Linked DNA regions of Homo sapiens: region 2 is linked to region 1. Evidence: fine-mapped expression QTL. A gene starts in region 1. The other region holds a variant in brackets. All regions are shown on one strand. Distances are from middle to middle. Region 1 holds the start of MAPK9 (mitogen-activated protein kinase 9). Region 2 overlaps GFPT2 (glutamine-fructose-6-phosphate transaminase 2).

The links. PIP is the estimated chance that this variant, and not a neighbour inherited with it, causes the effect.
Region 2: its variant is fine-mapped to the expression of MAPK9 in whole blood (INTERVAL, PIP 0.91).

What each region holds. Positions count from the first base shown.
Region 1 is chr5:180,285,623-180,300,815 of GRCh38, forward strand. It overlaps MAPK9 (mitogen-activated protein kinase 9), which reads right to left and starts at 6,461. Exons shown (of 12, transcript NM_002752.5): 1 at 6,226-6,461. LOC124901151 (a long non-coding RNA gene) reads left to right here and starts at 6,610. Exons shown (of 2, transcript XR_007059085.1): 1 at 6,610-6,678; 2 at 9,349-9,631. It overlaps GFPT2 (glutamine-fructose-6-phosphate transaminase 2), which reads right to left. Exons shown (of 19, transcript NM_005110.4): 19 at 15,076-15,193. RefSeq lists silencers at 5,977-6,166, 6,297-6,666, 6,677-7,016 and enhancers at 6,939-7,581, 13,423-13,923.
Region 2 is chr5:180,308,389-180,323,581 of GRCh38, forward strand. GFPT2 (glutamine-fructose-6-phosphate transaminase 2) reads right to left here. Exons shown (of 19, transcript NM_005110.4): 10 at 10,405-10,568; 11 at 8,575-8,670; 12 at 8,376-8,473; 13 at 7,953-8,073; 14 at 5,419-5,576; 15 at 4,042-4,156. Among named protein-coding and RNA genes, the nearest start is that of MAPK9, 24 kb to the left of the region's middle. RefSeq lists enhancers at 5,361-5,655, 14,741-15,193. The variant A/G (reference allele first, on the strand shown) is at 9,100.

The DNA of each region.
Region 1 (15,193 bases):
TAAATTGTTCTGTTTTCCAGCTGGGCAAGATGGCTCACACTTGTAATCCCAGCACTGTGGGAGGCCGAAGGTGGGAGGATCACTTAAGCCCAAGAGTTCCAGACCAGCCTGGGCAACATGGTGAGGCTTCAACTCTATATTAAACAATAATAATAATAATAATAGTAAAAATCTGGCCGGGTGCGGTGGCTCACACCTGTAATCCCAGCACTTTGGGAGGCTGTGGCGTGTGGATCACGAGGTCAGGAGACGGAGACCATCCTGGCTAACATGGTGAAACTCCGTCTCTACTAAAAAAATACAAAAAATTAGCCGGGTGTGGTGGCGGGCGCCTGTAGTCCCAGCTACTAGGGAGGCTGAGGCAGGAGAATGGCGTGAACCTGGGAGGCGGAGCTTGCAGTGAGCCAAGATCACACCATTGCACTCCAGCCTGGGCGACAGAGCGAGACTCCGTCTCAAAAAAAAAAAAATAGTAAAAATTTAAAAAGTTCTATTTTCCTACTGTAATTCTTTATTCTTTCTTTTCTTTTTTTTTTTTTTTGAGACGGAGTCTCGCTCTGTCGCCCAGGCTGGAGTGCAGTGGCATGATCTCGGCTCACTGCAAGCTCCGCCTCCCAGGTTCACGCCATTCTCCTGCCTCAGCCTCCCAAGTAGCTGGGACTACAGGCGCCCGCCAGCACACCCAGCTAATTTTTGTATTTTTAGTAGAGATGGGGTTTCACTGTGTTAGCCAGGATGGTCTCGATCTCCTGACCTTATGATCCGCCCGCCTCAGCCTCCCAAAGTGCTGGGATTACAGGCGTGAGCCACCGCGCCTGGCCTCCTACTGTAATTCTTATGAAGAATAGCTTGGTATAACAACGTAATCTTTCTTTGATAATCAAGAACCTTGCAGCTCTCAGGGCCATCCTCTGTAGTTCTTAAGCCACAGTATATACCACAATACAGAACAACTAGCATTTGGTTATCACTTCACCCACTGTTGGATCCATAGGACCCTGCAAGGATCTCCGTCACCAGCCCCACTTCCAGGCACCCAGGCCTGCCTATTTCCCTCTCAATCCCCCACTCCCAGGGCCCTGGGTAAGGGCTTCTCGTGGCTCCTTGGACCAGCGACAGCAGAAGCATTCTCCCAGCCACCATTTCTGTGACTTCCGAACCACTGCACACATGCCACTTTAGAAAGAGAAATCACTCCACGTGAGAATATGTACACAAATGTTCACAGCAGCTTTATTTTTAATAGTGCCAAACTAGAAACAACCCAAACCTGTCCTTCAATGGGTAAATGGTTAAACTAACTGCTGTATACCCATACCATGGAATACCACTCAGCAACTGCTGAAACATACCACAACTTGGGTGGATCTCAGGGGCAGGATAGTCAACGAAAAAAGCCAATCTCAAAAAGTCACATCCTGTATAACTCCATGCATATAACATTCCTGAAAAGACAAAAGTATAGAGATGCAGACTAGATTAGTACTTGCCAGCAGTTATGAATGGTGGGGAAAAGGGGCTGCTGTGGCTGTAAGGGGGTGGGACAAGGAGATATCTGGGATGATGACATAGTTTTGAATCTTGATTGTGGTAGTGGTTATAGGAATTTTCACACGATAAAAAATGACAATGAACTCTATACACCTTGCTCCGATGCCCAATGTCCTGGTTTAGACATTTTACTACAGTTGTGTAAATATGTAACCGTGGGAGAAAGCTGGGGGAAGGGTACTGGGACCTCTCTGTGCCATTTGTGCAACTTCCTGTGAATCTATAATTATTTCAAAATATGGAAAGAAAAAAGAGAGATTTGTTGAAAGTGTGCAGTGATCACACCATTCTCCCATTTGAACTCCTTCAACAGTGACTGACTGCCTGGAGAATAAGATTCAGTTCCCTAGCACAGCACAGGAGATGGCAGTCCTCTGGCCCAATCTTAGGCAACATCAAACCACCTGGGATCAGCGGACACACCCAGCTACTGCACACCTTCAGGCCTCTGCCTAAGCTGTTCCATCTGCTTGAAATGACTTCCCTCCCCTTTTTGACCTGCTGGTCAACATTCACCCTCCTTCAAAAATCTAGTTCAAGCACTTGCTTCTCTTACATGTTTCCTCCTCCAGCCTTTCCCTTCAAACCATGCTGGGCATGCCCCCATTTTTGCCACCCTCCCAGTATTCGCTTTAGATTGCATTCCGAGTCTACTTACACTTCTACTCTGTAAGGGCAGAAAATGTGTCTGATTTATTTCTCAATCCTCTACTGATTACACAGTGGGTGCCCAAAAAATGTTTGTTAAAGACAAAGCTAAATGGGAGAAAAAATGCGGTAGGGCAGCTGGGAGCAGTGGTTAAGATCGGGACTTTGACTTCAGACTCCCAGTGGGTCTGCTATTTATCTGGGTGATGTGCAGCAAGCGATTGCACTCATCTGCAACACGGACGAGCAGAGAGCCTCAGGGTACCTCTAGATAAGAAGTGCACAGCCCACTTAGGAAGGCATCTTGATGCAGGAATGCACCCTAAATCTGACGAAGCCTCGTCTAGATCCAATTACTAACTTACAGAGATTACAGAGAAACACATTCAATTACACTGCAGAGATGCAATCAATCAAATACCAACTATGGAAATGCTAAGGAACAACTCGATTGCTTCAACAAATAAACTACCAAGAAAACAAAGAAATAGGAGGGGGATCTATGGATTAAGAGAAACTTAAAAGACGTATCATCCAATCAACAACGTATGGCCTTCTCTTGCTCTACTTTCAAACTATTAAGGAAACCTAAAATTCATGGGGCAGCTGGAAATTTGAATATTGACTAGTTATTTGATGATATTAAGCAATTATTACTTTTTCAACTTTAAAAGAGTCAGTACCTTTAGAGACCTACCGAAGTGTGAAGTATAACTACTGTACACCTCCTGAGCACCCTGAGGTTGTGCCCGTATGTTTTACAGATGAGTGCAATCGCTTCTGCACATCACCCAGATAAGCAGCAGACCCACTGGGAGTCTGACTCAAAGTCCTGATCTTACCCACTGCTCCGAGCTACCCTACCACATTTATTCTCCCATTTAGCTTTGTCTTTACCAAACATTTACTGGGCACCCACTGTGTAATTAGTATCCCAAAAAATAATGAATGAAATGACATGATATTTAGGATTTGCTTGAAAATAATTATGGGTGGTAAGGGTGCAAGTGGATACCATTAGAGATGAAACAAGATTGGTCAGGAGTTAATAACTGTTAAAGCAGGACACTATTCTGTTTATTTTGTATATGTTTGAAAGTTCCCATAATAAAAGTTAAAATAAAAAGAATGATGTTGAAACTGGTTCATACAATCAAGTACAAAGTATCAGGAATTAATTATTCTGAAGGAAAATTATGTAAAAATGGCACCTTCCTAACCAAGTGTGAGGTGTAACTACTGTATGTATGTAGACCAAAAATAGTTGCCCTATTGGCAAATCAATAGTCTCAAGAAGAAAAAAAATCTGGTCTCTGTTTTATCTTATGCCTCATGAAAACAACTGGTTTACTCGCTATTAACTGGTTTGTCTGGTCCTTTTCTTTATCCAGAAAATTAAGAATATTTTATCTTAGACACATTCAAGTATCCCCTCTGTTGTTTATTTACGGGACCAAATAAACAGATTTTAATCTGTGAACAAATTAAAGTCCTGGCACCCTGAAAATTAAATTGCCAGGAAAATCAAAGCTGTCAAAAGAGAAGTCTATGCAAAAATAGTATTGTTTTTAACTCTGCAGGATCCTTTTGAAGAAAAAAAAAAGTTAAATGGAGGAAAACATTAAATAGATTGGTGGTCATTCTTCCAGAACAAGTTAAAAGCCAAAAGAGAATACTCAGAGCTGAGGGACCCAGGAAAGAATCCTTATCTGGGAAGTGATCTGGGTTCGAACTCCACTCACCAGCTGCTTGCTAAGAAACAGACTACTTAGACTCCTGAGCTTCCGTTTCCACAGGGCTCCAGTTACAATCAAATGAGTATCTGGGCTGGCACCTGGGCAAACAGGGCCTGGCTCCCCTGGCCTTAGGCTACCTTTCCTGCTCTCCTCACAGCTCCTCCCTCCCACACAGCCAGTCCTGGAGGATGACGATCCTGCAACCAAGCTGAATGAATCTGTATTTGGCTTGGCTCACAGCATTAAAAAAAAATTTAATTAGCTATTGCCAACATTTAAAAATCAGAACAAATGTGGAGTGCTGCCTTCCTTTTTAGAGACAGGGTCTTGCTCTGTCACCCAGGCTGGAGCACAGTGGTGTGATCATAGCTCACTGCAGGCTCCAAATCCTGGGCTCATGGGATCCTTCCACCTCAGCCTCCCAAGCAGCTAGGACTACAGGTGGATGCCACCACACCTAGCTAATTTCTTAAAATTTTTTGTAGAGACAGATCTCGCTACGTTGCCCAGGCTGGTCTTGAACTCCTGGCCTGAAGTGATCCTCCCACATCAGCCTCCCAAAGTGTCTTGAAATTACTGGCGTGAGCCATGGCACCCAGCCAAATTCCACCTTCTTCTAGAAAACTGCTGGGTAAGGTTCCTGTTCTTTAGGGTCCCCACGACTCTGTGTCCTTACACCTGGCCCTCCAGACTGATTCTCAACTCCACAGTGGCCTACGGTCCTTCCTTGGCCCTGCTCCTTCACACCTCTGTGCCTCTCCCTGCCTAGCAAATTTCTTATCACCCTCAAGGCCCCCCAGCACCACCTGTCACCTCCTCCACATTTCCATGGCATAGCCCCTCCCCTATAGCAAGGGTTGTACAGTCCTGGAACTAAGTGTCTGCATGCCTGCCTTCTCTACTGGGCTCCTGGGCTCTCTCGGGAAAGGGACCCCGTTGCTATCTGCCTTGTGTCCGTAGGGTCTAGCAGAAAGCATGACCTAGATAATGCAGAATTCAGTAAATGTCTCTTGTATGTGTGGAAGAAAGCTACAGCTAAACTATTATAAAAATGTGAGATTTTATATCACAGCTTGTTCCAACAGTTAGCAATTAAAGGGGTCAAGGACACCAAAATGTTTCACAAAATAGAACAAGCTTCCATCTGCTTACAAGTTTCACACGCTAATCAGAAGTCACTAAATGAACAGATAAAGCAGAGACAACAGGCAGGCTGGGCCATTTCTTTGATCATTCATTCATTCATTGAGCTGATACTACTGAATACTTCCTGTGTGCTTTCTAAGCACTGGGGATAAAGCAGTGGACAAATCAGACAGCTACCTGTTTTCACAAAGTTACATCCTAGTCGGGGAGACAGAAAATAAGCAGGCAAATAAATAGAATAGTTTCAAACCAGATGAGAGCTAGGAAGGAAATTTTTTAAATAATGAAATAGCATGACTAAGGGAAGAAAGAGGGTGGTCGAGGAGGGCCTCACCCAAAACGAGACATCTGACCAGAGGAAGGAGCAGAAAGAGCTACTTGTGCCAAGATCACGGAGACAACTCCAAAGACGGGGAAACAGCAAATGCAAAGGTCCTGGGGCAAATGCGGGCTGGCATGTTCAAGGCGGGCGAGATGAGTGGGACGGGGCAGCAGTCTTCTGGGGGAGGGGCGCGGTGGTAAGGGATTCGGGCTGGGTCCCCTCTGGCACTGCTGGACACCGAGTGTGCAATGACAAGGCAAGAGAGGAGTGCGCGGGGAGGCGGGAGGCTGGGCGGGTGGGGAGGGGGTTCCTACACCACTCACACCAGCACGGGCCAGCACCCTGCCCAGTCTTCCACAGATGCACACCGGGGTCCTGCCCAGGCGTCTGCATACATTCACACAGCCTGACAACAACCCTGTCCAGAAGAGACATTTCCCCACCTTCCCGAAGGCAAAACCGCGGCAGAGCGAGGGTCAGTGCCTTGGCCAAGGTCGCGGGGACGCGACCCCGGGCCCCTGGGCACCCGGCGCAGGAGTGCAGCTGTCTGCCCCACCTCCGGGAGGGATGGCGCCCGCAGACCCCACGGGCAGGTCGGCCGGGCCAGGCCGGTGAGCAGGCCCGCAGCCCGGGGCTGCTGACAGCCGGGCGGAAGGGGGCGCCTGCGGCATCCCCCAGCACAGGGGCGACGGCTGCGGCTGCCAGGGCCCCGCAGCCCCCGGCCCGCCCCGAAGCCCCCGGCCGCGCGGTTCCCTCACCGCCCCTCCCCGCGGGCCCGGCCCGAGCAGCCGCCGCCAGGCCTAGCCCGCCCGCCGGGCTCACCTCGCCTCCCCGCCGCCGCGCCACGGGGAGAGGGCGGGCGGGCGGACTGGCGGCGCTGCGTGCTAGTCACTCCTGGCTCCGCGGCCCCGGCTCCGCCGCCGGCCCGCCCCGCTCCGCTCCGCCCCGCCGCCGCCGCCGCCGCCGCCGCCGCAGTGGGTGTGAGGGGCGCCGGGGCGCTGCGACCCTTCCGGTCCCGCTCCCTTCTCCGCCGCTGCCGCCGCCGCGGCGCCCGGTCTGACAGACCCTCGCGCCGACCAATCAGCGCGCGGAGAGCGGAGCAGGCGCGGCCAATGGCGCCTGGGGGGCGGGCCGATGGAGGGTGGCGCGGGCGGGGTCGGGGGCCGGGTCGGGCGCCCGAGGTCCTGGGCCGGGGTTCCGCGGGTTCTTCGCCCCCGGGCCTTTCAGTGGCGCGGGCCGAGTGGCCATGGCGCTCGGGTGCGCGCAGTGCACGCGGTGAGCTGGAGACGCAGGCATTGCGCGGCCCACCGGCTGAGCCCGCTCTCCCTGCGAGGGGGGCGCAGCTCGGTGGAGAGGGTGGCCCGGAGGACCGGGAACCGGGCTGGAGGCGCGCGGGGCTCACACCGCGGGGTCCGCGGGGAGCCGGGCCTCGGGCTGCAGGTGCAGGCTTGTGGCGGTGAGGCGACTGGAGCGGCACGGGAGCCCGCCCGTTTCGGGGAGAGCCCGGGGCGATCGCGGGGGGAGGCCGGCCTGGCGTCCGGGAGCCCGGCGTGCTAGGGCCCGGTAGGCGGGGCGGGCCTCGCACTCGGTTGCTCGCTGCGGCGCCGGAGGAACGGGTCTATGGGGGTGTGGGTGAGGCCAGAAGCCGGGTCGAAGAGGGGGAGGGGGTGCGAAGAGATGGCGGTGTGTAGACAGGTGACCCGGTGGGTCGGTGACGCAGGAGGAGACTGCGCTTGGTGGCGGGATCACTTAGTTGACAACATCTAAAAATTAGGAGGTGCGGCAGGGCGCGGTGGCTCACGCCTGTAATCCTAGAACTTTGGGAGGTCGTGGCGGGTGGACTACCTGAGGTGAGGAGTTCGAGACCAGCCTGGCTAACCTGGTGAAACCCCGTCTCTATTAAAAATACGAAGCAATGAGCTGGGCGTGGTGGCGGGCGCCTGTAATCCCAGCTACTCGGGAGGCTGAGGCAGGAGAATCACTTAAACCTGGGAGGCGGAGGTTGCAGTGAGCCGGGATTGCGCCATTGCACTCCAGCCTGGGTGACAGAGTGAGACTCTCTCAAAAAAAAAAAAAAAAAAAAAAAAAAAAAAAAAAAAAAAAAGGGAGGTGCTCAGTCAAGCCTCTGAGAGGAGTGGGGGGCGGGGCGAGGAGTCTCTTGCTCAGAGCCCCCTAGGGACTGGGACCCGTTGACTCTGAGCTGCTTTTGAGGCTGGATCAGGTACCAGCGGCCTGGGGGTCGTACAGGATGGGAGAGGCCGGGGCTTGGGATGTTGCCAGATCTACGTTGAAAAGTGAAGCAGGAAGAGAGGCACTGAGGCTGGGCACATGGGGAAAACCGTGGAGAGCCGGCCTTTGGGGACTAGAAGAGTGGGAACAATGGTTGACAAATGGTGAGTGTGGTGTAGAACAGCAGTAACACAATACCAGGATCCACAGAGTGGCCAGGGCCAGAGTGGGGAGAAGGAACAGGACTCTGCAGATGGGGAGGGTAAGGGGCTGGGTGGCGTGAAGGGTGGTTGCAGAATTTGGGGAGGGCAGCTAGCCTGTGACCCAGGTTCCAAGGGCACTGAGGTCTGGGCCAGGCCGCTTGGAGGCACCAGAGCCTCAGAGGAGGGGTGGGGTAGAGGAACGGATCCAGCATGGTGTCCCCCTTGGCCACCAGAGGGAGTTTTCTAAATTTGAGCATGGCTCATCGCTGCTTGAAATTCTACGTCACAGTGTGGCCTGCATTGAGGAGGGCCCACACCTGTCGCTACCTCAGACTCACCTGCCACCTGCCTCAAGTGCATGAGAGAGAACAGGAAACCAGAAATTGTCAGGATCGAGGATTATGGGAAAAGAGTAAAAGCCTAGCTGTCAGATCTGAGGTTCCACCAAGGAGCACTGATGGGTGCTTCTCATTAGGAAGGCGGTGCGGTGGCTCACACCTGTAATCCCAGTACTTTGGGACGCCGAGGTGAGTGGATCACCTGAGGCCAGGAGTTCGAGACCAGCCTGGCCAACATGGTGAAACGTCATCTCTATTAGAAATACAAACATTAGCTGGGCGTGGTGATGGGTGCTTGTAATTCCAGCTATTCAGGAAACCAAGGCAGGAGAATAACTTGAATCCACGAGGCAGAGGTTGCAGTGAGCCGAGATTGCTCCACTGCACTCCAGCCTGGGCAACAGAGCAAAAACTGCATCTCAAAAAAATAAAAACAAAAAAACAGAGGGGACACCAGTTCCCAGCACTCCAGGCCTAACTTCATAGCACTCACATCATGTCAAGTGAGTAACCAAAAATCAGTGTACATATGTACACAGCTATACATATCTCACACTAAGTTTTCTGTAAGAGTTCTTTTTATTGCAGAGACACTGCTTTTTTTCTGGTTTATGAAATACAGTGAACATTTATGGACACAAAGCTGAGGTGACAGGGTGGGGAGGGGGGCCTTGGAACAGCACCAAGAATCCTGGTTGAACCCTCCAAGTGAAAAGATCCTGCCACGACATACGTGAACCAGGTGTGACACGTGAGCACGTCTCACCTGATCCGGCCTATGGTGGGGAGAAGCAATTGAGGAAGGCCTTCTGGGCAGGAGGAAGTTGTTGCTGAGGCTGCCGAGCAGGATGTGTTGGGCCTGTGACTTAGGCAGAAAGGGCGCTCAGGCCCACATGCTCAGATGTGAGGACCTGCTTGCTGTGTTCAGGGAGCCACAAGTCACCTGGTCTTAGGGAAAGGTGAGGGGACTGGAGAGTTCTGAGGACCTTGAGGTAGATTGGCACTGCCAGGCATGTAGGCTGGCTTTAGCTCACTGATACGCCTTGTTCAGCCCAGAGAGGTTTTCTTTTTTTAATTGATTAGTTGATTTAAGAAACATTTAGATTTGGGATGAGCTGTTTTGGATGTTTATCCTCAATGAAACTCATGTTCAAACTTAATCTCCAATGTGGCAGTACTGAGAGGTGGGGCCTCTAAGCGTGGTTGGGATTAACCTGTCGATGGATTCATGGATTAAAGGGTTATCACCGGAGTGGGACTGGTGACTTCATTAGAAGAGGAAGGAAGACCTGAGCTGGCCTGTGAATATGCTCCGCCCCCTGGCCATGTGACACCTGCGCCACCCTCAGGACTCTGCAGAGTCCCCAGCAGCAAGAAGGCCCTCACCAGGTGCAGCCCCTCAACCTTGGACTTCTCAGCCCCCAGGGCTGTAACAAATAAATTCTTTTTTAAAGTAAATTACCCAGTTTCAGGTATTCTGTTATAAGCAACAGAATAAGAAACAGACTAAGACAAGAGCACAGCGGGGTGGAGGAGCTAGGGGTGCCTGGGGCATTGGGGACCTGTCCGGAGGCCAGCTGTGTATGCAGCCACAGTGCCAACGGGTTTCTGTGATCCTGATATCCCCCACCCTTGACTGGCCTGGATTCCAATCCGACTCTTGTCAGCTGTGCTCCTCTGGGCAAGGGATTCACTTCTGTCTGCCTTGGTTCTGTAGGAAGTGGCATGGAGAAGGACAGAAGCAGGAAGAGCTGGGTGCGGCCCATGCAGCAGGGATGGTGTAGGTCCTTATGCTGACTGCCTCTGTCCCCTCAACACTTTGCCTGCCCTCCCCCCATTGCACTAACCCACATCTTCCCTTCTCCCCTACAAGGACCCAGAGATGTGCTAGAGGGTGTAAGTCGGGGCTGTCCCAGCTGTGTGTTGTAGAAAACTAAACTGCACTTAAACCAATGGGGACGTTTACTGGGAGGTGCCTGTAACATCATACCCAGGGGAGGTAGGGGCAGAGCTGGTCTGGAAACTCTAGGGCCATGGAGGCCACTGCAGGCCCAAATGGAGTTTGAAAACCCACAACAATGGACTCTGATGGTCCCCCAGACAGGGCTTCCATTCTGGAACTAGTCAGCCATGCTGGGCAGACAGGCTCATGTGAGGACATGGCAGGGAAGGGCAGAATTGGGAAAGGCAGAAGTCTGGAAGTTTCTTCCATGGTGATGATTAGAATGAGGGCATCTGAGCTGGGGCGCAGCTGAGGGTGTGGCACTGTATGGAAACAGGGTTATTTGGGGGCTGTATAACTGAATGCTGAACCCAGTGGCCCTTAGCCCTCCTCCTCCGGGAATCCCCCAGAGCACCAGCAGCTGGGACTGTCCTCAGGCAGGGAGCCAGCAAGCTGTTCTCCAGAAGTCTGACCAGCCCTGAAGGGAAGACCTGAGGTATGAACATTATGACACCCCCACCCCCACCAGATTTCCCAGCAGTGAATCCTGCATCAACCAGCCCTACCATGCCTTAGACCTTCCAGTCAGCCCCCCTTGAATCTGAACAGACAGCTCCATGTCATATGGCTAAGAAAAGTAAGACAAAAAACTGCATCTTGAAAGAAACAGACTCTGTGGAGAAGGAAAATTCAAAAAATAAAAATAAAACTACTGCTAGCTTCAGAGAGAATGAAAAAATATTGCATCCTTCAAACAAGAACCAGCCATTTAAAAATTATGCAGCACAGGTGTATGCAACATGGCCTTGCTCTGTCAGCTGAGATGGCCTAGAAGCAATGACATCTCAGCAGTGGCTGACACACCCAGAGCCCAGATCTTGTTCTCTAATGTCATTCGCCATAAAAGGAACCAGGGATCCCTGGAGAAATGGTTGATTCTAGGGCTGGGACAGGGGATGGACAAGACGAGCCTGGAGAATATTGTTGTGCAGGTAAGGAAGTACTTACAACACACACACACACACACACACACACACAAGGAAGTACAACACACACGTAAGAAAGTACACACACGGAAGTACTTACCCCCCCCCCCACACACACACGGAAGTACTTACCACACACACACACACACACACACACAAGGAAGTACAACACACACGTAAGGAAGTACACACACGGAAGTACCCCCCCACACACACACACGGAAGTACTTACCACACACACACACACACACACACACACAGATGGGGCTATGTCAAAGAGACACAAGAGCCAACTGAAAGAGCCCCCAGTGGCTGTTGCTGGAACCATTGGAACAACAAACTAACATAGTATTGGGCATGACTCAAAATATAAAATAAATATCTATGGTTCATTCTAATAGAAATAATAAATGGGGAAGAATAGAAAAGTTTGTGGCCGGGCACAGTGGCTCGCACCTGTAATCCCAGCACTTTCGGAGGGCGAGGTGGGCGGATCACGAGGTCAGGAGATCGAGGCCATCCTGGCTAACACGGTGAAACCCCATCTCTACTAAAAATACCAAAAAAAATTAGCCGGGTGTGGTGGCGGGCACCTATAGTCCCAGCTACTCAGGAGGCTGAGGCAGGAGAATGGTGTGAACCCGGGAGGTGGAGCTTGCAGTGAGCCGAGATCACGCCACTGCATTCCAGCCTGGTGACGAAGTGAGACTCTATCTCAAAAAAAAAAAAAAAAAAATATATATATATATATATATAGTCAGAGCAAAAAAAAACCCTCGAAAAATTAAATCATGTTGGCAGAAATGAAAAATCTTAGTAGCAGGTTGGGAGATAAAATTGAAATCTCTCAGTAGGGCAAAAAGACAACAAATGAATGATAAAAAAGATAAGAAATTAGAGGCCAGTCCAGCAGCTTCACCCTGGGAATAATAGACACTCCAGAGACAGAGAAACAGAGAAATCCACAACAAAATAATTCAAGAAAATTTCCTAGTCTGAAAGGCAAAAGTTACCAGATGCAATCAACCCTAAATGAAATGTGCTCTAGGCAACTTGTGGTATTTCAGAACACAGGAAACAAAAAAGAGACCAAAAGGTCACCTACAAAGACATCAGACTTTGGACTCAATAGCAGCACTGGGAACAAGACGATGAAGCACTACCTTTAAAATTCTGCAGGAACACCTTTTTCTGACCTAGAATTGTGTGTTTAGCTAAACCCTCTATCAAGTATAAATAAAAAAATCATTTCCACACCTGCAGATTCTCAAAAAACTTGCCTTCTGTTGTGGCCTGAATATTTGTGTTTCCCCAAATTCATATGTTGCAATCCTAACCCCTGCCACATGTGATGTTATTAGGAGGTGAGGCCTTTGGGAGGTGATGAGTGTGAGGGTGGAGCCCTTATGAATGGGATTAGTACACTTATCAAAGAGGCTCCAGAGAACTCCCTTGTCCCTTCTGCCATGTGAGGACACAGCAAGAAGGCTGCTCTGTACAAACCAGGAAATGGGCCCTCACCAAGACTCCACATCTGCCGGTGCCTTGATCTTGGACTTCCCACTGTTGAGAACTGTGAGAAAGAAATGTGGGATTTTTATAAGGCACCAGGGCTGTTACAGCAGGCTGAACTGACTTAAGACACCTCTCAAGCACCTTTTCTCAAGAATGGGCTTCACCAGAACAAAAAAGGAAACTCAGAAGAAGGAAGACACAGATACAGAAAACAGGAGCCCAGGCCGGTATGGCAGCTCACGCCTGTAATCCCAGCGCTTTGGGAGGCCGAGGCAGGTGGATCACGAGGTCAAGAGATCGAGACCATCCTGGCCAACATGGTGAAACCTTGTCTCTACTAAAAATACAAAAATTAGCTGGGTGTGGTGGCGCACGCCTAGAGTCCCAGCTACTTGGGTGGCTGAGGCAGGAGAATTGCTTGAACTCGGGAGGCAGAGGTAGCAGTCAGCTGAGATCACGCCACTGCACTCCAGCCTAGCAACAGAGCAAAACTCTGTCAAAAAACAAGCAAACAAACAAAAAAACAAAAACAGGAACCCAACACAGAAGACATGGCCTGGGAGGCCCATGGAGGGTGGCGAGAAGTGACCCTGAGGTGATGGCTCTGCACCAGACGTGGAGAGCGACTGAGCCATACTGAGCAGCGTGACCCACGGGGTGAACTGTCTTCACCAAGACCCCACCTCCATCAGGCCATCTGTAGCCCGGGGACAAAATGCCCAGGAGAGCCTGGCCTAGGTTCTTGGCGGTACTTGGCTTGGCCATGTGCCGACGAGGGGCGCTCCCCTCCTCTGCTGAGGACGCACAACATTCACAGAAGTTTCCAGCTTTCCCCCCACCGAGAGCTGGAGGCAGGCCGTGGCGAGCTTAGAAGCAGGACGTACAGGTCAGCCCCCTCCCTCTGACTATTTCCACTGCAGGTCCAGCGCGTGGTCCCCACCTTGGCCCTACCAGGTGCCTGACTGTGCTGAGCCCAAGACTTCCTCGAGACCTTCCTCATGACTTCCCCAGGAGGGGCCTTGTCAGTTCCCAGAGAAGCAGGGGTCAGACCACGACCTGGAGACTGATCTGCTCACCTCCTGGAACCTCCGTCTAGTGGAGGCAGTGCCGCCCTCTCCTTGCACCGCCAGCATGCACTCACCCTCCACTTTCGAACTAGGCAGTGTATTTGGGGGATAGATACACAGGTGAAACTATAAAGAAAAGCAAGGGAACAATTGGCACAAAAGTCAGAATGGCCGTCGCCTCTTGGGCATAAGGATGAAATACACTTTCTAGGTCTTGTCCAGAGAAAAATGTTCTGGCTAGTTTGTAGTCTCCTAATCTTGGAAGTTGTATTGGTCATGGATTGATTAGTAGGACAGAAACTATTCTAGCCATTTCCCTGGGACTGACCCAGGGCCTGGAGGACAGAAGTCAGGAAAAGCCCCTGTGGCACCTGGTTGCTGCCAGCTCTCCAGAGTTGGGATTTTAGAGGAGCCACAGGCGACCTCTGTTCATGGTCACCACTGCCTGGCATGCTGAGGTGGGTGCGTTTTGGGGAGCCCCTGAGGGCCACAGCAGAACCCCGTTTGCTGAAGCAACATTTCTATCTGCTTCTGCCAGAGATAAATACAAAATATGATTTCTGCCACTCAACTATCTTCCAAGTCTCCCATGAATGCCTCTCACTGGTGGATAACCTAGAAATGTAGCTCCCAGCTTTCCAGCCCCTGTGATACAGGTGAGGGCATAGGACAGAATGGTGGATAACTGGAAATGTAGCTCCCAGGTTTCCAGCCCCTGTGATACAGGTGAGGGCATAGGACAGGATGGTGGATAACTGGAAATGTAGCTCCCAGGTTTCCAGCCCCTGTGATACAGGTGAGGGCATAGGACAGGATGGTGGATAACTGGAAATGTAGCTCCCAGGTTTCCAGCCCATGATACAGGTGAGGGCATAGGACAGGATGGAAATTTGCTGAGTAGCCCATAGGTAATCCTGGACAGGGTTTATGAGATACTAGGGCTACACACACCCGTTGTCATGAAGACATCATTCAGGTTGTGTGTGACAGCACTTACGTAGGAAGCCTAAGTTCTGACTTCACAAAACTTCAGAACTCTCTGGCTTTCAATCTTTCCATCTGATTGTATTAATGAAACCAGGGACTATAATAGCCTTATTGGGAAAAAAATACAAATTTGAGAGTTTCACCCCTCTATGCTGTCTACAGGTTCTGCCCAACCCCTTCCAGGTTCAGTGGCCCCTCTGCTGAGTCCCAAATCTCTTGGATTTGTTGTATCCTGGACAACAGCCCTCCTTTTCCTACTAGAAACCCATAGGTCTCAGGTGTGGACGAGGCCAATGTTACTAACAAACAGGGCTGCCCCTCCAAACACTGCCGAGCTCCTGCACAGTCCTCAAAATTCAAAGTACACAAAAAGAATGAGGTTAACAAAATGCAAACACACACAAAAAAACTGTATGTTCTTTATTGTCCTAAAATTGCATAGTACTTTTGATTGTGCACGCTTTTAAATAGAGAGCAGAGTTGCCCACTTGAAACTACTCTCTTGCATGGGATATTTCAAGCT
Region 2 (15,193 bases), 23 kb after region 1:
GCTTTTTGTTCTTGCAAATCTTTTTAGTGTCTGCCTTTTTAATAAAAGACTGTTGACTCTAATATCTGCTTTCACATTCAATCTGTGGTGATAAGCTCTTTTGGTTGAAGTATAAAAATAAAATTCAGCCTACAAATACAGATTTGTAGTTGGAAAAGCGAGGAGTATTTAAATTATTTTACAAATAATTGTGAATATTGTTCTTTGACACCACAGTACATCAAACTTGAGAAACAGTAGGTTCTTGAAAGGGTAGGTGCCAATATAGAATCTGAAATCCTATCAATAAACTTTTTCTACTTTGTTAGGTTAAAATTTATTTTTCTGTCTTGTGCTTTTAAATGGATCATTTACAAGTGCATAACTCTGTGACATCGTGAACTGGCCACAAAGGTATGTAAATCTTCTTAAAATGGACACTTTTATTATAAAATGTTCTTTAAAAATCACCTTGTTGAAGTCACCTTGATCTCATCAGAGAAGACTTTTTTTTTTTTTTGAGACAGAGTCTCACTCTGTCACCCAACCTGGGGTGCAGTGGCACGATCTCGGCTCACTGTAACCTCGGCCACCCGGGTTCAAGTGATTCTCCTGCCTCAGCCTCCTGAGTAGCTGGGATTACAGGTGCCTGCCACTGCACCCAGCTAAATTTTTTAAATATTTTTAGTAGAGATGGGGTTTCACCATCTTGGATAGGCTGGTCTTGAACTCCTGACCTCATGATCCACCCACCTCGGCCTCCCAAAGTGCTGGGATTACAGGCATCAGCCACCGTGCCCGGCCCTAGAGAAGTCTTTAAATGTTAGGAACTGGTCAAGCTCATGGTAACAGAGGTGTTTTCTAACACTCAAAAGTTTTGCCTGGGAGCTTAAAGTTTATCATTGGCAACAAATACCATGGGTTGCTTCTACTGATGCGTCAGCTGATTTTTCATTTTGAGAAAATGTCTAACAAACACCAAAATCAGCTTGCTACTCAATGGGATGGCTGCTTCTCTTGAGACAAGCATCACACTTCAGTGTAGAGCAGAAAGGCTTTTTCTCTTTTTCCAGACGGAGTTTTGCTCTTGTTGCCCAGACTGGAGTGCAACGGCGTGATCTCAGCTCATTGCAACCTCTGCTTCCCAGGTTCAAGTGATTCTCCTGACTCAGCCTCCCAAGTAGCTGGGATTAAAGGCGCACACCACCACACCCAGCTATTTTTAGTAGAGATGGGGTTTCACTGCGTTGGTCAGGCTGGTCTCGAACTCCTGACCTCAGGTGATCCGCTCGCCTTGGCCTCCCAAAGTGCTGGGATTACAGGCATGAGCCACCACGCCTGGCCCCAGTAGAAAGGCGCTACGTGTACTCCCCATTTCATCATAAAGGATATTACAAAGAGTTGCAATTTACAGACTAATAATTTTTACCACCTCATCAAGGCCATTCCTTTTTTTTTTTTGAGATGGAGTATCACTCTGTCACCCAGGCTGGAGTGCAGTGGTGCGATCTCGGCTCACTGCAAACTCTGCCTCCCAGGTTCACGCCATTCTTCTGCCTCAGCCCCCCGAGTAGCTGGGACTACAGGTGCCCACCACCACGCCCGGCTAATTTTTTGTATTTTTAGTAGAGACGGGGTTTCACCATGTTAGCCAGGATGGTCTCGATCTCCTGACCTCATGATCTGCCTGCCTCGACCTCCCAAAGTGCTAGGATGACAGGCATGAGCCACCGTGCCCAGCCTTTTCTTTTTGAGATGAAGTCTCGCTCTTGTCGCCCAGGCTGGAGTACAATGGCACAATCTCGGCTCACTGCAATCTCCGCCTCCTGGGTTCAAGCAATTCTCCTGCCTCAGCCTCCCAAGTAGCTGGGATTACAGGCACCCACTAGCACGCCCAGCTAATTTTTGTATTTTTAGTAGAGATGGGGTTTCACCATGTTGGCCAGGCTGGTCTCGAACTCCTGACCTCAGGCGATCTGCCCACCTCGGCCTCCCAAAGTACTGAGATTACAGGCGTGAGCCACTGCGCCTCACCATCAAGGCCATTCTTTTTTGTTTTTTGAGATGGAGTCTCACTCTGTTGCCCAGGCTGGAGTGCAGTGGCAGAATCTTGGCTCACTGCAACCTCTGCCTCCTGGGTTCAAGTGATTTTCCTGCCTCAGCCTCCCGAGTAGCTGGGATTACAGGCACCTGCCACCACATCCAGCTGCTTTTTGTGTTTTTAGTAGAGATGGGGTTTCACCATGTTGACCAGGATGGTCTCGAACTCCTGACCGCAGGTGATCCGCCCACTTCAGCCTCCCAAAGTGCTGGGATTACAGGCGTGAGCCACCGCGCCCGGCCATCAAGGCCATTCTTAAGGGAAACTGGGTGTGTGCTGGTGAAGGACACAATGACCAGTAGGCCTTCTAGTGTGCTGGGTGCCGGGCACAGCCACCACTGCCTTTGCAAATGTGGACACAGGCAAAAAAAAAAAAAAAAAAAAAAAAAAAAAAAATTTTTAGTATAAAGAATGTATTACTATGTGAACAATTTTGTTCAAAGGGCTTTGCAGACACCCAGGACCTGTGGACCACATCTGGAGAACCACTGACTTAGACGTCAGAATTGGGTCCTGTTTTGCATGGTTATGACCTGGCTTAAAGGAAGAATGCTTTTCTCAGAAATAAACTTTCAGCAAGCTGTCTCGGCCAGTGTCAGGCCCCGAGGGCCTGGAATTGACCATTCTCTATGATGGCCCTTCCCCAACTGCCTGCTCTGGGGTTTGGCCCTGGCTCCCAGGGAAGCTCCAGCGTCCACTCTGTCTCTGGGAGGGCACTCCCCAGAAGCCCCATGATGTCCTGTCCGCAGTGAGCGTTCCATGCCAGCCTGGGGCGAGGCTCGATTCATCTCCGCCTCTCAGGCCTGCACAGAAGTCTCTCTCCTACTCTGGCATGTGAGTGACTGAAGGAGGTGAGCTGCTGCTTATCTTGGCAGGCCAGGGATAGCACATGGGACAGGGCACGGCACTGGTTCTTAATATATGTGGTGGATGAATGAAGAAAGGGGAGGCCACGGTCCCCAAGGAGGTCATGATTTAGTGCAACAGATATTGTATCTCACCAGCTACGACAGCTGCGACTGCTGCTGCCCAGCAAACGGGGAAAGTGTGGTGGGGCTGCCAAGGAGCGCCTGGCATAGGAAGGACCTGGGGCCATTTGCTCTTTCTCGAGTACTTACTGAGCACCTACTGTATGCCTGCCCTGTGCTGGACACCAGCTGTCCAGTGGCAGCTCTGGCAGACAGAGCTGTGTGTTCACGGAGCCGACATGTTAGTTGGGGGAGACAGGCCAGTCAACAGGTGAACAGGGAATTTCAGGTCATGAGGTGTGTTATGAAAAAAATAAACAGGCTAATGTTTCACAGAGTGCTGGCGTCGGGGCCTCTGTGAGCATGGCCAGGGAGGGTCTCAGGAGGTGACATTTGAGCTGAGGTTTGGGAGATGAGAAGCTGTCGGCTGTATGCAGAGCAGGAAGAAGATGGTTCAGCAGAGTAAAGAGCCAGTGCGAAGGCCCTGCGGTGAGAAAGCACTGAGCACTGCTGAGGACCAGGGAGGCAGGGAGGCTGAGGACCAGGGAGGCAGGGAGGTGGGGAGGCTGAGGGGCAGGGAGGCAGGGAGGCGGGGAGGTGGGGAGGCTGAGGGGCAGGGAGGCAGGGAGGCGGGGAGGCTGAGGACCAGGGAGGCAGGGAGGCTGAGGACCAGGGAGGCAGGGAGGCGGGGAGGCTGAGGACCAGGGAGGCAGGGAGGCTGAGGACCAGGGAGGCAGGGAGGCTGAGGACCAGGGAGGCGGGGAGGCAGGGAGGCAGGGAGGCAGGGAGGCAGCGCGGCAGCGCAGGGGGAGGTGGGGGCCGAGCAGGATGAGGTCAGAGGCAGCAAGGCCTCCAGGAGGGAGTTGGGGAAGCTAGGAAGTTTTAGGAGGAAGAAGAAATGAACAACATCCTGTACAGGTGAGAGTCAACAGAGAATGGCCAGCAACAGTCCACTAGATCTGAAAACATGGAAAGCTGAATTCTAGAACATACCAGGTAAAGATCTCAAGCCACGGATGATCTCTTGCCTCCTGTTTTGTAGTGAAATTCGGTCTTCAGACATCATCAAACCAAACATCACCAGAGAGATGAACTGACTGGTATAAGCCTGTGCACAAAGAAGGAGGTGGCAGGGACCTTATTTTCACTTTTTAAATCAACTTTTATTTTTGAGACAGGGTCTACTCTGTTGCTCACGCCTGAGTGCAGTGGCGAGATCACGGCTCACTGCAGCCTCAACCTCCTCAAGTGATTCTCCCACCTCAGCCTCCCGAGTAACTGGGACTACAGGTGCCACCACCCTGCCCAGTTAATTTTTAGGTTTTATTTATCTATTTATTTATTTCTATTTTGTTTTTGAGACAAAGTCTTGCTGTGTCACCCAGGCTGGAGTGCAGTGGCTCGATCTCGGCTCACTGCAACCTCCACCTACCAGGTTCAAGCGATTCTCCTGCCTCAGCCTCCCGAGTAGCTGGGATTACAGGCACCCGCCACCACACCCGACTAATTTTTGTGTTTTTAGTAGAGACGGGGTTTCACCGTGTTAGCCAGGATGGTCTCAAACCCCTGACCTCAGGTGATCCCCCTGCCTCGGCCTCCCAAAGTGCTGGGATTACAGGCCTGAGTCTCCGCACCTGGCCTAAGTTTTATTTTTGAAGGGACGGGGTTGCCCGGGGCGGTCTGGAACTCCTGGGTTCAAGGGATGCTCCCGCCTCAGCCTCCCACAGTGCTGGGATTCCAGGGGGGAGCCCCGTGCCAGCCCTAAAGGACTTTAAAATAAGCATCTCCAAGGTGCTCAAAGAGCCACAGGACAACATGGACGAAACACAGGAACGTGGCATGGGAATAAAATGAGACTAAATGAAGATATGGGGGCCGGGCACGGGGGCTCACGCCTGTAATCCCAGCACTTTGGGAGGCCGAGGCGGGCGGATCACGAGGTCAGGAGATCGAGACCATCCCGGCTAACACGGTGAAACCCCGTCTCTACTAAAAATACAAAAAATGAGCCGGGTGTGGGGCGGGTGCCTGTAGTCCCAGCTACTCGGGAGGCTGAGGCAGGAGAATGGCGTGAACCCGGGAGGCGGAGCTTGCAGTGAGCCGAGATCGCGCCCCTGCACTCCAGCCTGGGCGACAGAGTGAGACTCCGTCTCAAAAAAAATAAATAAATAAAATAAAAATAAAAATAAAAAAAATGAAGATACGGGAATCCAAGAGGGGAGGGGAAAGGAAAGGAGCGGAGAGAAGGGGTGAGGCGGGAAGGGGAAAGAAAGGCGGTGGCGCGGGCAGAGCAGGCCGGAGGAGGGCGGCCTCTGGTGCACCTGCCTCCGCCAGGCTCTCCCTGGGACGGGCGCCCGTGGCTCCTCCTACCTTGGTGCTGGCCACGCCGATCTCCGGCCCTGCGTTGATGTGGACGCCGCAGTCGGTCTCGCGAGAGATGGAGCTGCCCACGGTGTTGGTGACGCCCACGGTGAGAGCGCCGCGGTCCTTACAGTAGCGCAGCGCCAGGAGGGTGTCCGCGGTCTCGCCTGCCGCCCAGGGGCCCTCTCAGTGCCGCGCTCCGCCAGCCTCGGCCCCACCCCAAACCCCTTCCTCCTTCACCGCCGGCTCTTACAGGGAAATCGGCGCCCGAGACACAGCCAGCGGGTGTTCAGAAAGGAAAACGCTCGCTCAACAGCCTTTTCGGTTGATTCTTACATTCAAGGTGTGTTACTATTTGTGGCAAGCATCTTTTCATTTAAATCTCGTGACAACCCCGTGAGGACCATCGTCCCCATTTTCCTCTTGAGGATGAGGGCTCAGAGACAGGAGGAAACCGGTGCTCTGATCAAAGCCATACAGCTGGTGACAGGTGGGCTTGGCTCCCAGCGCCCTCTCTGCAACTGAATAAGCTGCCTTATTCAGAACGTGCTGAGATGGAACAGATTTAACATCTGACAAGCAGGAATGTCCCCAAGTGGTGTTTCTCAGCTAGATCCTGTTTGAAAGGACACTTCTTGCAAGCCTCTCAGTGTGGACTCAAATTGTTTTTAGAATAAAGCTAAACAGCTTCATGCATAAACCAGCACAAGCTCCCTATGTTTGTGAGTCCTAAAGCACTCAAATTAAATTCAGCATAAGCCAGACTATAAAATCAAAACTGTTGAAATCCTCATGAGTCGGGAGGCTGTTCTGTTTGCAGGGCCACTGCTCTTGGCTGTGTCTGTCCCAGCTTTGCAGGGCAGGCAGGTGCCGCCCGGTGCTAGGTGGCCCAATTCTCCTCTGCTTTTCTTTCTTCAGAGCCCTGGGTTATGGCACTGGAGTGTCACGGGGTACTGCGGTGAGGGTGCGGGAAAGGGGGTTCTAACTTCTGTCACCCGCGCCCTAGGGTTCGATAGTGTTTTTTCAATCTCATTAAAGGGCTGACTTCTATACACACAGAGATTCGGAAGCTGCCACTGCATTATTTTCATATTAGCTCCACCTCTGTTCTTTTGTTAATGTCTCCCACCAATTTATAAAATAGTCTGAGGCTCTGGTGGGATCAGAAACCCAAAGGTGAACACGGCAGCAGCTCCTGCGTCATAAGGTGGTGGGCCGGATGGTCGGTGTATCTGTACTGGTTTTTCTTCACTTGTCAACAAAATGGAAATGGTATTTAAAATGGAAAATGGCAGGAGTACTAAAAGTCCTAATAGATGATAGGGCATTACAATCAGTATTTTAGTTGTGGTAGTAACACCGTGGTCATACGTTTTTCTTTTTCTTTTTTTTTTTTTTGAGACGGAGTCTCGCTCTGTCGCCCAGGCTGGAGTGCAGTGGCGCGATCTCAGCTCACTGCAAGCTCCGCCTCCCGGGTTCACGCCATTCTCCTGCCTCAGCCTCCTGAGTAGCCGGGACTACAGGCGCCCGCCACCACGCCCGGCTAATTGTTTTATATTTTTAGTAGAGACGGGGTTTCACTGTGTGAGCCAGGATGGCCTCAATCTCCTGACCTCGTGATCCGCCCACCTCAGCCTCCCAAAGTGCTGGGATTACAGGCGTGAGCCACCGCGCCCGGCCGGTTATATGTTTTTCTTTTGTCATTTTAATCATGCAGCCTGAAGTATTTATATGGATGAATATCATGATGCCCGGGATTGGCTTCAAAGTAACCCCATGGAGACGAGGGGTTAATATGAGTGTGTCCGACCGGCACAAGATGGGCTGGATAAGGCTAGGATATTCATTATATGAAAATTCTACTTTTATAAAGGCTTGGAATTATCCGTAATTAAAACATTTCAAAAATCTTCCACGAGCTCAAGGAGACTCCAAGCCTATGGCCCTGGATCACCTCCCTGAGACAGCTGGAGCAAATGTCAAGCCCAGTGTTGGGATGGCACCAGATGGGGTGCATGTAGCTTGGGAGACCTTCCTTGGCCCTAAAAGGGAGCACTGTCTCCCCCACACCTCCCCCTGCTGGGCAGCATGGGCACTGCATGCCACAGGCAGCTCGGCTTGGACACTTGGGCACAGAGCCCATACTGGGTCCTCCACGTGACTCTCAACCTAACAAAATGTTAAAGGAGATGCTTTTTCTATTAACATAAATCAGCAAACATTTATGAGCACTTCGGTAAGTGGTCCTTGAAGTCTTGGATAGGCAAGAAGAGGGAGAAGCCACGGGGCAGGGGAAAGACTAACGTGCGTGGATTTCCAGCCCAATCCCAGCTGTCACCCCCTGACTGCATGGCCTTAGACATCTCTTGCCCTCCCCGTACAATGGCGACAGTAATCCATGGCTCTACGGGTTAAATGACCGCTGCAAGAGAGGGTTCGCAGCACAGGGTAGCCATGCAGAGGACTTAACTGAATGAAGGAGAAGAGGAGAGAGCCCAGAGCTGACCTGATGCAAGGCTGGCCACAATGCCTGTGTCCCTTACCTGACTGGCTGATGAAAAAGCAAACGTCATCCCTGAACACAGGTGTGTTCCTGTCCAGAAAATCACTAGCAAGTTCAACCATCACAGGAAGCTCAGTCAGTTCCTCCAAAACTTGCCGCGTCTGAAGCCAACAAGCAAGCATGGAGACTAAAGTCAGTCACAGGCACGACAGGGACATGGGGCAGCTGGGCTTCTAGGGACAGTTTGTGACACGGAACCTCACTGTCCAGGTGGCGAGGGGACTTCGGTCACCCACAGGCCACCTCGAAGATAAAAGGGCTCCGTGTCATTTCTCACGCTAGCTCATGGGAATGGGTACAAGGGCTTAGCCAAATTCAGAAGGCCACATGAGTGATAAAACTGAAGGCCAGTGTCTGGTCCTAGACTGCCGTCGACTTCCCCACGCACATGTGTCACACTTACAGCCACGGCAGCGTGGTAGCTGGTTCCACAGCCAATCACGATGAGCCGTCGGCATCGTCGAATCTCCTTCAAGTGGTCCTTCAAGCCACCCAGGAGCACTGCAGGGCACACGACAAGGCGTTAATGCTGAGTCTACACAGTCACCGCATTCCCTGAGACTAGGCTCGGGCGGAGGCTCCCCACCGAGTGTAGGAATTACCTGTGTTGGTTTCAAAATTCACCCGACCTCTCATAGTATTGAAAACTGATTCTGGCTGTTCGAAGATCTCCTTCTGCATAAACGCACTGAAGTTACCTGGTCAAATAAACGTCTGGTCAGTTTTAATTTCATTATATTTCACTGCTTTTCATTATGCAGCAGCGATAGTAACTCCTGTAAAGCTTACTGCAGATTCCCAAAGGCATCCCCAGGGATTACCCTGCCTGACACTCACTACCATCAGAGGGAAGCAGGTCAGGAACCAGGACTATCTCCAATTTACATATTGGACCCTGCAGCTTGAGAAAGGGAGGGATTTGCCCAAGGCATGCAAGTAACAAATGGCCTGGCTGATCCCTCTGGGCCATGCTCCCTTAGCAAGGCCAAAAGAAAGTAAAGTGCTTCACTCCCAAAAAGCCATCCAGCTAGGAAAGTACAGCTAAGCAGGCCCAAAGAAACAGGCAATTTTCCTTCTAATAAATACCCTCCTGGTTTCCGTAATAAAAACCTTTCCAGGCCGGGCGC[A/G]GTGGCTCACGCCTGTAATCCCAGCACTTTGGGAGGCCGAGGCGGGCGGATCACGAAGTCAGGAGATCGAGACCATCCCGGCTAAAACAGTGAAACCCCGTCTCTACTAAAAATACAAAAAATTAGCCGGGCGTAGTGGCGGGCGCCTGTAGTCCCAGCTACTTGGGAGGCTGAGGCAGGAGAATGGCGTGAACCCGGGAGGCGGAGCTTGCAGTGAGCCGAGATCGCGCCACAGCACTCCAGCCTGGGCGACAGAGCAAGACTCCGTCTCAAAAAAAAAAAAAAAAAAACCTTTCCAGCCACACAGGCATTTCCAGGGCTCTGATTTGAGTGGGATTGGATGGTGCTGATGGGACAATGGGGCTGCAGGGTGTTCAAGCCCCTGCACCTGATGCTCTGGAGGTACCCACAGGCAGGGCAGGCCGTGTTCTCTAGGATACGCACACTCATGACACCAACATCGCCCATGCTCCCGGCCTGTCTCCCATGACCTGGCACTTGTGCGACGAGCAAATGAAGCAAGTGAGGGGAATGAGGGGTGGCCACCATAGGGGAGGGGCTGGGGAGGGACCATGGCAGACACAGGAGCAGAGAAGGAGTCTCTGAGGGGGTGACATTTCAAGGGAGCTGGAGGCAATGAAAAGGAACCAGTCCTATGAGAAGAACAGCGAATGCAGGGGCTGTGGCGGGGCACAGTGGGACAGAGGGTTGAGTGTGGTGGGGCCAGGCTTTGGCCCCACTGGGGTGTGGGGTTTGTGGGCTGTGGCAGGGAGTTTGGATTTTATTCTAAGAACAGTAGGAAACCATTGGAGGGCCTTGAGCAGCGGGATGATCACAGGGGCTGATTCATGTTCTTAGACGTTTGCTCAGGCTGCCCTGTGGGGTAGAGGTTGTAAGGGGACAGAAATGGGTGCAGACAGAGAGGCTCTCCTTGTAGGGAGAAAGTGTACCCCCACCCCCCATTTACTGCAGACCTGCAGACTTCCACCCAGAGGAGAAATGATGCCTGAGGGTGGGCATGTGTCCCGCGGAGTCGGTGAAGGAAGGCAGCTGACACACTGGGCTCAGTTCCAGTAGGAAAGACCTGGCGGCTGGCTGCACACAGGAGCCCCCGCTTGGAGGTGCCAGGCCAGCCTCCCCACATCCCCTCACCTGTGCAAGCCACAGGCTACCTGCAGCCCCGCCCTGGTGGCCACAGAGGGCAGGAGGGCTGTGGCCTCTACTAGGACCAGGCAGAGTGTCAGGAGCTCCACCAGGCGCGCTGGCTCCCGAGGCTGCCGCACGTGGACTCTGGAGGACACCTGCCTTTCATGATTTGCTGCAGTTCCATCTGCAAGGTCTGGATGGCTCGAGATGGGTCATCACTGGCCGAGCGCTTGACCCGGTGAATGGAGAGTTTCCCATCAGCCACTGCGGCGATGTCATCGTCCTCCAGGAAGATGACCCGGTTGGTGTGCTCTATGATAGCGCTGGGGCAAGGGAAACAGGCATCATCAGTGCCCTGCCCTGAGCAGTTACGAGGCAGCAGCCCCTTGCTGGTTCCCAAGCGTGGAGGCCACATCGTTGGCATTTTAGGAGGGACAGAGAGACCACACTAAAAACATTGATTTGCAGGTGAATCTTCCTTTTCTTCTCCACTCTTCCCTCCTGTCCCCACGGAATTATTTTGAAGCCAGTCCCAGACATTATATCATTTCTTCTGTAAACACTTTACCATAGAGCTCTAAAACTATTTTAACCTACTATAATACCATAATCATATCTAAAATGAATAGTTGTTCCTTTATATCATCAAATATTCAGCATGTTTACATATCTCCAATAATCTCACGGCTGTCTTTTTATAACCGGTTTCTTCAAATCAGGATCCAAACAATGTCACCTCTGGAAGATACTCGAGAACCAACACATTATTCTGAATCGTGAAGGGAAAGAATAAAGCATTTATCTCGCCTTTCTAAACAATCTGTCTTTCAGAACAACCACATACTTTATGAAGGCAAGTTTCTCTAAGAAGTGATACAGCTAGTAATGAAGAAATAATAGAAGAATCAATTTATGAACTCCTAATTATTAATAGCTCTAATCAAGGACCATTCATGGCTGTTGAAACCAGAAGGTAAAAAGCTGGACGAAGCTTTATCATGGATGGATAAGGCTGGCAACACTCAAACCCCTGATGGCTCTTAGCACAAAAAGAGAGATGGTGAGACATCACCCGCCTCCTGATGGAAGGACACACCACCAACTATGTAGTCTTGCCAAAAAAAATCAAACCTGAATAAGATCGAGCTTTTAACACTTGTAAACTCCAGCGTACAGGAAACACAGGGGACAGAGGAAGATGGTAAATGACACCAGGGGTTGCACTCAGCAAAACCCAGACAATGGGAAACTCATCAGGACAAAAGACCTAGTTTCTTACACACACACACACATACACAAAGGAGCCCTAAAAGTAGTCTACAAGCTATGCTTACCAAAGAAACATAGGGTCATTGTGTTTATTTATTTATTTATTTTGAGACAGAGTCTCGCTCTGTCGCCCAGGCTGGAGTGCAGTGGCGCGATCTCCACTCACTGCAAGCTCTGCCTCCCGGGTTCACGCCATTCTCCTGCCTCAGCCTCCCGAGTAGCTGGGACTACAGGTGCCCGACACCATGCCCGGCTACTTTTTTGTATTTTTAGGAGAGACGGGGTTTCACCGTGTTAGCCAGGATGGTCTCGATCTCCTGACCTCGTGATCCGCCCGCCTCGGCCTCCCAAAGTGCTGGGATTACAGGTGTGAGCCACCGTGCCCAGCCCATTGTGTTTATTTTTATAACTTTCTCTGTATGGAAAAGAATAATGATTTTTTTCCCTTGAGATCATAATACAAAGTATCTTTTAAAATCATTTTAAGTTTGAAAAGTTGCTAAATGAAAAAGAAAGGTGATTAATGGTATATAGTTGTGGTATAAACCATCAGGTTGGGCTTGAAGGACTACTGGAGAAAACACTCTCGGCCGGGAGCCCTGGCTCACACCTGTAATCCTAGCACTTTGGGAGACCAAGGCGGGAAGATCACCTGAGGTCAGGAGTTTGAGACCAGCCTGGCCAACATGGCAAAACCCCGTCTCTACTAAAAATACAAAAATTAGCCAGGTGTGGTGGCGGGCACCTGTAATCCCAGCTACTTGGGAGGCAGGAGAATCACTTGAACCCAGGAGGCGGAGGCTGCAGTGGGCTGAGATTGTGCCACTGCACTCTAACCTGGGTGACAGAGCAAGACTCCGTCTCAAAAAAAACACTCTCATTCTATCAAGAGCCACACCCACACGTGACTGCCTGAAAATGAACACTTAAACTCCTGGTGCAAAGGTAAAGAGAGAAACCATCAAGGTCTAAGGCTCTAAAAGACGTATATCCAGCCAGATCCTAGGGAAGAAAGAGAAAGAAAGATGGCAAGCCACTGTACTGGAAAAAATATTTTAAACAAAACTTTGTATAAAAGTATACAAATAACTTCGTATGCTTTGTATAAAAGTGTACAAATAACTTCGTATGCTTTGTATAAAAGTGTACAAATAACTTCGTATGCTTTGTATAAAAGTGTACAAATAACTTCGTATGCTTTGTATAAAAGTGTACAAATAACTTTGTATGCTTTGTATAAAAGTATACAGAGCTTTATACAAAATTTTGTATAGAAATATATTTTTTTGTATAAAAAGTAGAAACATGGAGTGACAAGAAGTAAAAACGGCCCTATCCTGTCTCCGAGAGATCAACACTGCTTCCATTGTAGCATTAACCAACCAACAATGCATGACGCATGTGTGTTTATATTTATGTGTGCATGTACATGTTTGTTTAAATATAATTATTTTATTTCCAAAATGGGTAGTCATGTAATCTAGTCATTAAAACCAATGGCCCACCAGTTAGGCTTGAGGTGGACTCGGGGCCTCTGTCACTTGCCAGACCTGTGCCCGTGGGCAACATACATAACCCCCTGGAGTTCCTGTCTCAGGTTCCGCCTCTGTAAACAGAAAAGAGCTGTGCCTTCCCCAGAGGTCTGTCATGATTATCGCATGGGATCCTGGTGAGGCTCTCATACCGTGCCCCGCACACACTGGCCACCGTTGCCCAAAAGCTGGACAGTGTGCTCACATCTGGGAGGGCCACCTGCCATTCCTTTCTCAGCATGTGTTGTCTTTCTTATCTCTACACTACACGCGACAGAATCACTTCCTGAAGTTCCAAAGGCATAAACAAATAAAATAATATGGAGGGTTTTGTTTTGTTTTGTTTTGTTTTGTTTTGTTTTGTTTTGAGACGGAGTCTCGCTCTGTTGCCCAGGCTGGAGTGCAGTGGCGCGATCTCGGCTCACTGCAAGCTCCGCCTCCCGGGTTCACGCCATTCTCCTGCCTCAGCCTCCCGAGTAGCTGGGACTACAGGCCTCCGCCACCACGCCCGGCTGATTTTTTTTTTGTATTTTTAGTAGAAACCGGGTTTCACCGTGTTGGCCAGGATGGTCTCGATCTCCTGATCTCATGATCTGTCCGCCTCGGCCTCCCAAAGTGCTGGGATGACAGGCGTGAGCCACCACGCCCGGCCTGGACAGTCTTAATTACAGCACAGAATTCACAGAATAATTTGGGTAGAGTCAATATTTTTTAAAAATAACTTGTAATCATTAAATTAGTTTTAAATGTTGAGTGCATTAATTTTTGAAAATAGCTACTCTGGAAGCTGAGGCAGGAGGATCCCTTGAGTCCAGGAGTTAGTTCGAGGACAGCCTGGGCAACTTAATGAGACCCTGTCTCAAAAAAAAAAAAAGAAAAGAATAGTAAGCCTTCCTACTGAGGAATGTGGAATCTCTTCCTATATTCAAATCTCTTACTTCCTCATGGTAAATTTCTGTAGACTTCTCCAAATATGTTCTAGAGTATTTTTGTTAAAATTTACTCTAAAGCATTTTTTTTTCCAGCTGTGGTGAATAGTATTGCTTTTTTGGTTCACCTAACGTTTGCTGACTGCATCGTGCCTGGTCACGTGAGGTGACACCTGAGAATAAGGTGGACAAGGTCCCACTTGAACCAGATACAGCTTAGTGGCTAAGGCCAGGATATAGGATTTCCACACCTTTACTCCCAGCTGCTAGTACTATCAGTTCTAACAGCCTTTTGGCTGGATTTAAAAATGTGTAATAGTATTGCCTACAAATAATTATTTCCTCTCCTTTCAGGCATTCATGCCTTTTTTTTAAAAAAAAAGAAACATCTGGATGGGCGCGGTGGCTCACACCTGTAATCCCAGCACTTTGGGAGGCTGAGGAGGGCGGATCATGAGGTCAGGAGATGGAGACAATCCTGGCTAACACAGTGAAACCCCATCTCTACTAAAAATACAAAAAATTAGCCGGGCGTGGTGGCGGGCACCTGTAGTCCCAGCTACTCAGAGGCTGAGGCAGGAGAATCACTTGAACCCAGGAGGCGGAGCTTGCAGTGAGCCGAGATCACACCACTGCACTCCAGTCTGGGCGACAGAGTGAGACAAAATAAATAAATAAATAAAAATAAAAAAAGAAACATCTATCATATTTCATTGAATATAAGTTACTATTGATCGTTAAGATCACAATTATTTGACAAACTTCTAAGAAATAAAAGCTTCAACAAATTCTAATGGTACTATGCCAAAATCTACAATTCTCCGTGTTTTAGAATCACTGAAATAATACCAGCGTCTCGTTGGTATTCTCGGCGTGTTCTAAGGGGCACCATTTGGGAAGCGCTGCCTTGACCTCAGCGTTAAGTATGATGCTGGCTGTGCGTTTAATCAGGCCTCGCCTCCCTGTCGCTCCCGTTTCCCAGGAGACCCGGCCTGGTGTCCTCCCTGCCTCACAGCACGGCCCTATTAGAGGCTGGTCGGGAAAGAGAAAACCCATCAAGAATGGAAACATAACAAAGGCCCAAGCCTTTGGGTCTTTGAAGAAGGTACCAGAGGTGATTACAGCAGTTTTCTACTTCAAATGGCAGGAAAGTGCTCTGGTTCTCTCTCTCCCTCTCTCTCTCTCTGTGTGTGTGTGAGTGTGTGTATAACTTTTTTT